3 separate regions of the Homo sapiens genome follow, and all the other regions are reported to be linked to region 3. Evidence: microRNA targets listed by miRTarBase, many of them from high-throughput screens and not tested one by one. Region 3 holds a microRNA gene; each other region holds the end of a gene's coding sequence. Distances are from middle to middle.

What was found. The annotated mature microRNA hsa-miR-545-3p reads UCAGCAAACAUUUAUUGUGUGC and lies in region 3 at 1,257-1,278, shown strand. An mRNA with a match to its seed (bases 2 to 7 or 8) in the 3' UTR can be bound and repressed. Matches are read on the target gene's strand: a 7mer-m8 pairs with bases 2 to 8, a 7mer-A1 pairs with bases 2 to 7 and ends in A, and an 8mer does both.
Region 1: the mRNA of HMGB3 is a reported target of hsa-miR-545-3p. Seed matches in the 3' UTR shown: 7mer-m8 at 690-696.
Region 2: miRTarBase lists SLC45A4 as a target of hsa-miR-545-3p. Seed matches in the 3' UTR shown: 7mer-m8 at 683-689, 7mer-m8 at 1,118-1,124 and 7mer-m8 at 1,551-1,557.

What each region holds. Positions count from the first base shown.
Region 1 is chrX:150,987,505-150,990,504 of GRCh38, forward strand. HMGB3 (high mobility group box 3) reads left to right here. Exons shown (of 5, transcript NM_005342.4): 5 at 273-3,000. The coding sequence ends at 410. Among named protein-coding and RNA genes, the nearest start is that of HMGB3, 5.7 kb to the left of the region's middle.
Region 2 is chr8:141,208,882-141,211,881 of GRCh38, reverse strand. It overlaps SLC45A4 (solute carrier family 45 member 4), which reads left to right. Exons shown (of 9, transcript NM_001286646.2): 9 at 185-3,000. The coding sequence ends at 310. Among named protein-coding and RNA genes, the nearest start is that of SLC45A4-AS1, 44 kb to the left of the region's middle. RefSeq lists an enhancer at 2,551-3,000.
Region 3 is chrX:74,283,938-74,288,403 of GRCh38, reverse strand. It overlaps MIR545 (microRNA 545), which reads left to right and starts at 1,195; the gene lies at 1,195-1,300. The region is part of intron 1 of FTX (FTX transcript, XIST regulator); the gene reads left to right. It overlaps MIR374A (microRNA 374a), which reads left to right and starts at 1,047; the gene lies at 1,047-1,118. LOC124905199 (a long non-coding RNA gene) reads left to right here. Exons shown (of 2, transcript XR_007068266.1): 2 at 1-539. RefSeq lists an enhancer at 4,085-4,466.

The DNA.
Region 1 (3,000 bases), 77 Mb from region 3:
ATTTTCCTTACTCTTTAAGGAAAAAAAAATGTTAACAGAGGATTTGATAGTCCTACTAATGTGACTTGAAGGACACTTGAACACCCACTAACTTTTAAATTCGAATGGCTAAGAACCAAATTCATATATGGAAACACTTCAGATATATATGATAGCAGCACTGTCTTACTTGATTTCAATTCCTGTCCTCTTACCTGAGATGAGGACTGCATGTTTCTACTTTGTGTTAAAACAGCCGCATACTCATTTGAAATGTGTCCCTGTTCCTCTAGGATGTTGCTGACTATAAGTCGAAAGGAAAGTTTGATGGTGCAAAGGGTCCTGCTAAAGTTGCCCGGAAAAAGGTGGAAGAGGAAGATGAAGAAGAGGAGGAGGAAGAAGAGGAGGAGGAGGAGGAGGAGGATGAATAAAGAAACTGTTTATCTGTCTCCTTGTGAATACTTAGAGTAGGGGAGCGCCGTAATTGACACATCTCTTATTTGAGAAGTGTCTGTTGCCCTCATTAGGTTTAATTACAAAATTTGATCACGATCATATTGTAGTCTCTCAAAGTGCTCTAGAAATTGTCAGTGGTTTACATGAAGTGGCCATGGGTGTCTGGAGCACCCTGAAACTGTATCAAAGTTGTACATATTTCCAAACATTTTTAAAATGAAAAGGCACTCTCGTGTTCTCCTCACTCTGTGCACTTTGCTGTTGGTGTGACAAGGCATTTAAAGATGTTTCTGGCATTTTCTTTTTATTTGTAAGGTGGTGGTAACTATGGTTATTGGCTAGAAATCCTGAGTTTTCAACTGTATATATCTATAGTTTGTAAAAAGAACAAAACAACCGAGACAAACCCTTGATGCTCCTTGCTCGGCGTTGAGGCTGTGGGGAAGATGCCTTTTGGGAGAGGCTGTAGCTCAGGGCGTGCACTGTGAGGCTGGACCTGTTGACTCTGCAGGGGGCATCCATTTAGCTTCAGGTTGTCTTGTTTCTGTATATAGTGACATAGCATTCTGCTGCCATCTTAGCTGTGGACAAAGGGGGGTCAGCTGGCATGAGAATATTTTTTTTTTTTAAGTGCGGTAGTTTTTAAACTGTTTGTTTTTAAACAAACTATAGAACTCTTCATTGTCAGCAAAGCAAAGAGTCACTGCATCAATGAAAGTTCAAGAACCTCCTGTACTTAAACACGATTCGCAACGTTCTGTTATTTTTTTTGTATGTTTAGAATGCTGAAATGTTTTTGAAGTTAAATAAACAGTATTACATTTTTAAAACTCTTCTCTATTATAACAGTCAATTTCTGACTCACAGCAGTGAACAAACCCCCACTCCATTGTATTTGGAGACTGGCCTCCCTATAAATGTGGTAGCTTCTTTTATTACTCAGTGGCCAGCTCACTTAGGGCTGAGATGAAGGAGAGGGCTACTTGAAGCTACTGTGTGATTTTGTTTGTGTCTGAGTGGCATTCAGATGAAGTCTGGAGGAGTTAGGAGAACGACATAGGCAAGGTTCAGCAGCCTTCCAAGGTATAGGAAGGTGGGTGATTAGGACTGAGGCTATCTAGGTTTAACTTTTGTCCCACCTCCACCCCCTATTTTGTGGGGCCAAATGCATTGCTAAACAGCAATTTCAGAGTGTATGGTGTGTCAAAAATTAAGGCCTTATTGTTTTTCTCTTTCACCCCTACCCCCCGTGCTCCTGGCACATATCACATTATTTGTGGTGCCCAACATTTGGGGTCTTGAGCCTGCTGCTGGTCTCCTGGATGCCAGTGAGGGTATGTGGGATGGGGTGGTGGGGTAGGGGACGGTATCCTTTTTTTGCTCCTACTTGGAAACACCAAACACCCCAAGGAAGATGATAGGCTCCATCTTGGGCCACCTGAGCTATAGGGCAGGCTAATGGAATCAACCATTTCTGAGCACTAAATGTATCATGAAAAGTTGAATGGCCTGCTCATAAGTTTAGCTCATTCACTGGAAATGTAGATTGATGTTCAATGTTAAACTGGAAGGAGCTTGGTTTGTGTGTCAGTGGTTATATTAGTGGGTAGTGTAACATTTTATCCAGGTTGGGGTGAGGGGAGATGGCCACAGTAGCAAGTGGTGACACTAAATACCATTTTGAAGGCTGATGTGTATATACATCATTACTGTCCGTAGCAATGAAGGATACAGTACTGTGTTGTGGGTGAGTGTTGCTATTGCCCAGCATTAATATTTGGGTGTGTATGTTTGAGGCTATGAAACACGCAGGAGTGTTTTTGTGCTATTAATTTTAAGAGAAAGCAGCTTTTTCTTAAAATTCACTGTTGAGAAACTTGCATGTCTGGAGGCGGTGTCCTCTCCGCCCTGTCGGGTCCTGGATGAGTACGAGTTATGGTCACGGTCACAGCCTGATCTCTTATGTGTTCATAGCCATTCGCTCTCCCATCAGAACTGTTTGTCCTGAATGTGTTCCTCTAGTTCTAGAAAATGACCACTAATTTAAAAAACTCGGTTGTGAGGTTTGCCCAGAGGCACTTGTTCCAGAATTTCCCCTCCTGCTTCAGCCATGTCCTTGTCACTTGGCATTCTAAGCTAAAGCTTTAGCTTCCCAATTCGTGATGTGCTAGGCCAAGATTCGGGAGCTGTTGCCAGCCTCGTCAAATATGGAAGAGAAACAACCTGCGGTCAAAAGGGAGTGATTTGTTAAGTGGTGCGCGTCTATCTCATAACTAGATGTACCAACCAGGGAAGGGCCAAGGATGGAAAGGGGTAACTTTTGTGCTTCCAAAGTAGCTAAGCAGAAGTGGGGGAGCAGTTTAGCCAGATGATCTTTGATTAGGCAAACATTGAGTTTTAAAGAGGCTGTCAAGTTGAGGCCACTTGGTCCATTAGCTGGGGCAGCAAGATCACTACTCAACGTTTTCACACTGTGGCAAGATTGCTCTTCTAGTGGAATAATGCCCTAGTTTCTCTGAGATGATGTAAGTGGCATGATGTTACCTAAGGCTTAGGCTTAGCTTG
Region 2 (3,000 bases), not on the chromosome of region 3:
GTTTTTAAATGATATAAAACATTTATATAGACAATAAGCAACTTAGAAAAAATAAGATTTTGCATTTCTAAAATTATAATTGAAAACAAAATCTGACATTCTCTGCTAAGTCTTATCTGAATGCTTCAGATAATGGTAGTGTAGTCAGTGACTAAAATATTTTTATCAAATTTCCTCTCTGTAGACGCCTGCAGGTATTGACGTCTGTCAGATCTCGTCACATTGGCTGGTGCCGCAGCTGTTGGAGAGTATTTTTCTTTATGATTATTTTAGAAAAAAAATTTTCTTTTCCACAATGTGGTTCTCTTAGAAGAATGACGTATCTTCTTTTCCTCAGCGAGTTGGACACATTGTGCCCAGGGCAGCCCTGTCCTTGGGCAGCGACCGCACACCAAAGCTGGGAGGAGGCTGGTCCGGGGGGCCTGGGCAGAAGACAGTGATTTGCAGGGGTGGCTCCCAGACACCCTGCCCAGGGATGGGCTGGGCACCACCTGGGGGCGGAGCGTGAGCTCCAGACGAGCTCCTGCGTGCGCGTGTGAGTGTGTCTGCGCCCAGCCATGTGACCCCGCTCGTCCCGTCTGAAGGACTCTCCTAGGAGGCCAGGTTGCCCCTCCAGACCGCTCCCAACGTCAGGGGGAAGGAAACGTTGACTTTCACTGCACTTTGATTCGTCTCTAAACCATTTGCTGGGGATTCCTGAGAGCAGAGCTCCCAGCGGGCCCTGCCTCCCAAGTCCCGCCGCAAGGCTACCTCGGGTGTGTGGATGTGCGAGGGCCTCCCCCGCTTGCGAAGGGGACATGCGTGCTGGAACCTGTCGGAACTCCATGCCTTCCTCGCCTGCTCACCTGCTCGACGCTGGAATCGGGACAGGTGCAAAGGGACGCAGACGTCTGGGACAGCTAAGGCCCGTGTCACCGGAGGGCTCCGCACAGTCGTTCTGGTTTCAACGAATAAGCAAAACTCGGGCAAGTACTGCAGCTATTTGGAAATGTTTTCCAAACCACAGTCTCTTTAGAACTAAGCCTATTTGAAACGGTCGGTGTAGGCTTACTGAGATCAGGAGACAGGGAGGCCCCGCACATCACACAGATAAAGTCAGACAATTGTAATTAATACTTTTGCTGCCTCAAGTTGTTTTTTAAATAAAGTACTTTGAAATGCATGAGAATCATGCTGCAATATGATCATTCTAGAGCAAATATATATATACACGTATATATATTTCAAGATGAAACTAAAGCAGTTTTTAAATAAATTACTTGAATTTTCTGTGTATTTAAAGGAACGACTGTTTAATGTACTTGATGGGCCTCTGGTCTTGCCGTGTCTCCTGCCGCTGGTGGCACTTTGTAGATTGTGTGTTTGTGTCCGGGTGGCAGTTGGGTACCTGCTCACGCACGGTGTGTCTGCCAGGCCACGGTGTCCCAGGATCGCAGAGGGCTGACTTTCAAGACTTCAAGAACATTTTCTGGATGTGTGGAAACTTGAGAATGGCCTTGTGAATCTCGTGCTTGGACAGGGCAAGTCCGACTACTGAAAGTGCTGCCAGCTTTGCTGCGAGCCCTCCGGCCAGCGGGAGCCCCGTGGGCTGGGCACTGTGGCCCTTCTTCTCTGGGGGACGGCACCCCTGGCTTCCTCACCTCGGCCGGGCGTCCGTGGCAGCTCACTCTATGCAACTTGATCCTCTAGCGGCTTTAAGACTGTAGATCCCCTCTCTGAGACCTGGCTGTACTTGTCAGGATCTCGAGGCGCAGCTCCCGTCTTAGCTGGTTTCTCCGGCTTCTCGTCCTGACGACTATAAAACAGTTGGAGGCAAGAAAGCAGCGGATGTGGGGTGGCAGTGGCCTGACCCGAATCAAGATCCGACCCAAACCACACCAAATGTGGGTTCATCTGGGGGCCACCCCTTGCCTGAGGCTTCCCACCCTCATCTGAAGGCCCAGGGGCCGGATCCAGGGCTCACCAAAGCCGATTCCTCGCCAGCTGGGAGTGCAGAAGTCTCAGGGCCTGGCTGCGACTTGATTTTTAGGAGGAAGAGGGGCTTCGCAACCCCCCTCTGAATAGTGTGTTAACCCTTGAGATCCCAGCCTCGACTAATCTGAAGTAAGGACAACAAAGGCCATTCAGTGCCCTCCACATGGCCTTGCCACAGTCACTGTCAGGGTATGAACGTGCCGGAAGCCAGTGCCAGCCAGGGACAGGCGTGACTGTTGTGTGCTCCTCGGTGACAGGAGTCGGTGGCTGCACACTTTGTAGACTCGTCAAGCTGTCAGCACTTCAGGTGTTTGCAAGCAAAGCCCTTCTTAGTGTGCAGGTCAGTGTGCAGAGCCCAAATGAGGGGACCGCAGGGGCTGGGGTCCAGGGTCAGTAGAGTCGGTTTCTGGAGCTGCCTTCCTGGGAGGCAGGTGTGGGTGACCGGGGCTCTGGCGGTGCGTGTGGGCCCGGCCTGGCCACAGCGGGGACCAGGTCACGACATCTTTGGCCTCAACCCCTCCCCTGCACTGAGATTATTTCCAGATTGCACTCACTTGAAACCGTCCGTGTCGTCACCTTGTGTCTTAAGGGAAGCCGAGAAGAAGGGCAGACGGGCAGGCTGTCTTGTCTGCAAAGCGCCATTGCGCCCGCAGCTTGTGTGGGTCAGGCTGCAGCTCGGGTGTCTGTGGCTTCTAACCTTGTACCTCAGACGGATGCAGTAACAAGGCGGGGCTGGGGACGCCGGTCAGTGTCAAAGGGGAGGTGCTCTGGCTGATAGCCTTGCCCGAGAGGGACGAGGAGGCCGTGCGGGTGCCCCCTGGGGAAGCTGGCCAGCCATCCAGTGCTGAGGACGCAGCTGGAGTTGGGCTCGTGGCACCCTTGGGGTGTGGGCTGTGCAGGCTGGTGGCCTGGGTGCCTCTGCACACTGAGTGGAGTGTCAGGCAGGGTGTGTCGGTTGGTCGAGTCTTGTGTAATGTGCGCAGACCAGTTACCAAACTAGGATAATGTTGGTCTCATTTGTGGTGG
Region 3 (4,466 bases):
CTAGCATGTGAGAAGGCACCAGGAGTGGGCTAATTGGCAGAAAGGAACAGTGTATAGGCAAGAGCAGTGAAATAACTTTAGGGGAAAATAGTATGTTAAGCTTATTAAATAACAGCCTCATAGAGACATTGGGTCCCAAAACAGTGATCTCAGTATAACTGTCAACAACTTGCTGATGTTATCAGCCCTATTTGCTGGTCAGAGACAAAAAAGCCAGTAAAAACCTAGGTATTATTAAGAAAGGTATGAGGCACAGAAAAATGCCATCTTATCTTTGTATAAAACCATCTGAACCAAATAACTATTACAGTAATAATCTTGCCTCAAGGAGTCTGTTACTATCACTCACATGATTTTGAAAAGGGAGTGGGCAGAGTGTGTTATCTCTCTGTTTCATTTTTCTTGTTTATAATACATAGGTGAATTAGATATTCTCAAAGGTCTTGGAGGGGTCTAATTCTGGTTTCCTGAAACTGAATGTTATTTCTAGTTTAGAGAATCTGTTTAATTATGTTTATTAAATAAACTTTTCTAACTTATTCCTACTCTGATCTGTATATTATCTATTTTGTATTTAATAACATTCTAACTTTTTTTTTCCAGTGAAGGATGAGGATTATTGGATTTAGAAGTGCCAAATGAGCTATTACTTACTGCTTTTTGCTATCCGGTTACACTGGGTTAATCCAGTTAGTTGTAAGCTCCCATTTTTCAGCATTTTGCTAGCTGTAGATATTAAACCAGGCTCATGTGGGTAGTAGGGTGGGGAGGTTAAGAGGAGTATAAGCAAAAAGGAAAAAAAAAAGCTCATATTTTAGAGGAGGGGATTGAGAAGTTCCTTTATTGGAAGTCTGTGCATGGAAGTCCCATTTTACATCATGCCAGTGTCTAGTTCCCAATTCCGTCTATGGCCACGGGTTAGGGAAAGCCTGAATATTTGAAATAACCGAAAAGCATTTAACCTTTGATTTCTATAATTTGTTCCTCACCTCTCTTGATGTTACAGCCAGCAGCAGCCTGGAGCAGCACCCCCTGGGAAGAAATTTTACATCGGCCATTATAATACAACCTGATAAGTGTTATAGCACTTATCAGATTGTATTGTAATTGTCTGTGTATATGCCTGTCTCTCTTCCTGTTATCAGTTAGACTGTGAGCTCCTTGAGGGCAAGGAAGGTGTCTTCATCTCCAGAGCCCAGCCTGGCACATTAGTAGGCCTCAGTAAATGTTTATTAGATGAATAAATGAATGACTCATCAGCAAACATTTATTGTGTGCCTGCTAAAGTGAGCTCCACAGGCTCTGGATTGTCAGCTGTTTCTTCAAAAAGCATGTGGTCAGAAATTTGATATTTCTGTATATATCTTCCTAAGAGTTTCTCATGAGACAATGCCATTTTTGTGTTTGGATTTCAGTCCTTGATATTTACAGATGTTGCAACTGTTGCTATTGCTGACACTTGCTTTCTTGGTGGGACTTGAGTGATAACTGTTAGATTGGGGCCTCATCCTCAGGGCCCAGGTAATCATCCAAATAGTATTCTTAGATAGGACTTTGCATTTTTCTTTCTTTTTTTTTTTTTTTTAAGGGACAGGTTCTCACTCTGTTGCCCAGGCTGGAGTGCAATGGTGCGAACACGGGTCACTGCAGCCTCGAACTCCTAGGCTCAGGTGATCTTCCACCTCAGCATTCTGAGTTAGGACTATAGGTGTGTGCCACCACCCCTGGCTAATGTTTGTATTTTTCGTAGAGAAGGGGTCTCGTTATGGTGCCCAGGCTGTTCTTGAACTCCTGGACTCAAGCGATCTACCTCCCTCAGCCTCCCAGAGTGCTGGGATTACAGGTGTGAGCCACTGCACCCAACCAGACTCCATATTCTAAACCAAGGGTGGGCAAACTTTATTGCCCATGGGCTACCTGTTTTTGTAAATACCATTCTATATTGGAACACAGCCATGTTCATTCATCGATGTTTTACCTGGGGCCGCTTTTGCGGCCCAGTGGCACAATTAAGTAGCTATTAGGTTGGTGCAAAAGTAGTTGCTGTTTTTGCCATTAAATATATTGGAGACATTGTGGCCCACAAAGCCTTTGTAGAAAAAGATCTGTGCCCACTCTGGATCATCACTCGACAGTGATGGTTTCATTTCTCATTCCATTCACCAGACCAGAAATTCATATTTATTTACTTCATTTGTCATTGCTTGTGACAAGTCTTTTTCCTCTTTTACAGATAAGCCAGCTAAGACATGTTTTAAAGTAGAAGATTATAAGACCTCCCCCAGGGTCCTGCAGTCAGTCAGTTATACCCTGCCCTTCAACATCAAGCTTTGAACCTCTACTCTAGAAATACCTTTTATTATATTCAAACTTGAAGCACGTGGACATAGCATGCTTTGGTGCCTTCGTCCTTGCCCCCCTCCTTCCTACACAGTTCTTTGCAATGAGAATATGGGAAATAAGGACTTAATGTGAGATAAGGCAGAAAGGTAAGCTGAGGCAAATGTTTAGAGGGTCCCTAACACTAATTTTTAAATGAAGAAGTGGGGTGTCTGAAATACTCATTTATTTAGATGTATACAGATAGTGAGCCTAGACTTCCAAGAGCTTAGAGCCCCTCCCCTTGTGCCTCCCCAACTTTACATGTACTATCTTGGTAACCTGCCTATGAATACATGTTGATTCATTTCACTTCATTAAAAAGTCGGAGAGCTCAAAGTCATATTTGAGAAAGCTAAATCTAAAACAAAATGGAGGAAACACTGAATAGGTTCATCTCGTTGGATAGGATCATCCTAGGAATAAAATATAATAGAAGGAAAGGTCTTACAGCCATATTTTTAAAGCTGCTTGCTGGATTTTTCCCAAAATTGTATTGTGAAAGTTGTCAAACATACATACAGAAAAGTTGAAAGAATTGTACGGTGAAAAGCCATGTACCCAACACCTAGATTTTATAATTAACATTTAACTATACAGTCATGTGTTGCTTAAAGACAGGATATGTTCTGAGTAATGGATCATTAAGTCATTTTGTTGTTGTGTGAACATCATAGGGGAGTGTACTTATACAAACCTAGATGGTATAGCTTACTACACACCTAGGCTATATGGTATAGCCTATTCCTCCTAGGCTACAAACCTGTACAGCATGTTGCTGTATTGAATACTGTAGGCATTTGGAATACAGTGGTAAGTATTTGTATATCCAAACATATCTAACATAGAAAAGGTACAGTAAAAACGTGGTGTTATTATCTTATGGGACCACCATTGTATATGCGCCTGTGACTGAAATGTTACTATAAGATTCAGGACTGTTTGTGTTATCACAGTAACTCATCTTTGTTGAATAGGTTTTAAAAATCTGTCTGTCTTCTGTGTTAATGTCATCTGTATCTGACCCATCATGGTGCTGAAAAAGCTTCTTTTCATTCTTATTTTTGTCTTCTAAGTCAGCATGAATACCAGCACAGCCCAACTATGTGTAAGCAGATCTGTGCAGGAATGAGAGTCCCAGGGAGAGAATCCACGTTGTTTCTGAAAGAAAATGGCTATAGCTCACTGTTGTTTACTGGAAATAGTAGGGGGAAGGAAAGATGGAAGTCCAGGTCCAGTGTCATATACTGCCCTGCACCTTACTCACTTCTCTGCCTTTAGGGTAGGTGGTTTTCTGAGCAGCTTCTGCTTGGTTCTCTCCTTTAAGGCTTGCTAAAGGAGAAACAACAATGTCATATTGAAATGCCAATGAGGCAATATTTAGCATTAGAATAACTTTGGAATTCTAGCAAATGGAATTTTAATTTGGGCTACTGTCTAATAGTATTCTTTGAGCCTTTTCTGTTAGCAACAGCTGCAGTTTCAATTAGGAAGCACCATGAAATTTTGTTTATCTTTATCCATGGACATGATAATGGTAAATGTTACCTGTTTGTGTCTCTCTCCTTTGATTTAAACTCAAGGGTAGAGATGTGTTTTACTGATCTTTGCAAATCTCTTACACTGTAAGATTTGTATTCATTTATAGGGATATACCCCCAAATATATGTTTAACATTATTTAAAAAAAGATTTAGATATGGGCATATTCACGGTGTTCATAACAGTAAATAATGGAAAAACTTACCTAGTCATGAATAGGAACTTGGTTAAATACATTTTGGTGTATTCATGTAATGGGACAGCATAGCCATTAAAAATAAAAATAGTCTTGAAGATAAATATTTGACTTGGAAAGAAGTATACAGTATATTAATTGAAAAAGGGCTAAAGGGCAATAGTATAGTTTCATCTAATCATTGTAAAATAAGAATTCATGTTTGTGTATGTACATGGAAGTTGTTGGATGAACATACCCCAAGTGTTAAACTTTTCTGGGATTCTGGCTGATTTTTTTTTTTGAGACGGAGTCTTGCTCTGTCGCCAGGCTGGAGTGCAGTGGCGTGATCTCGGCTCACTGCAACCTCC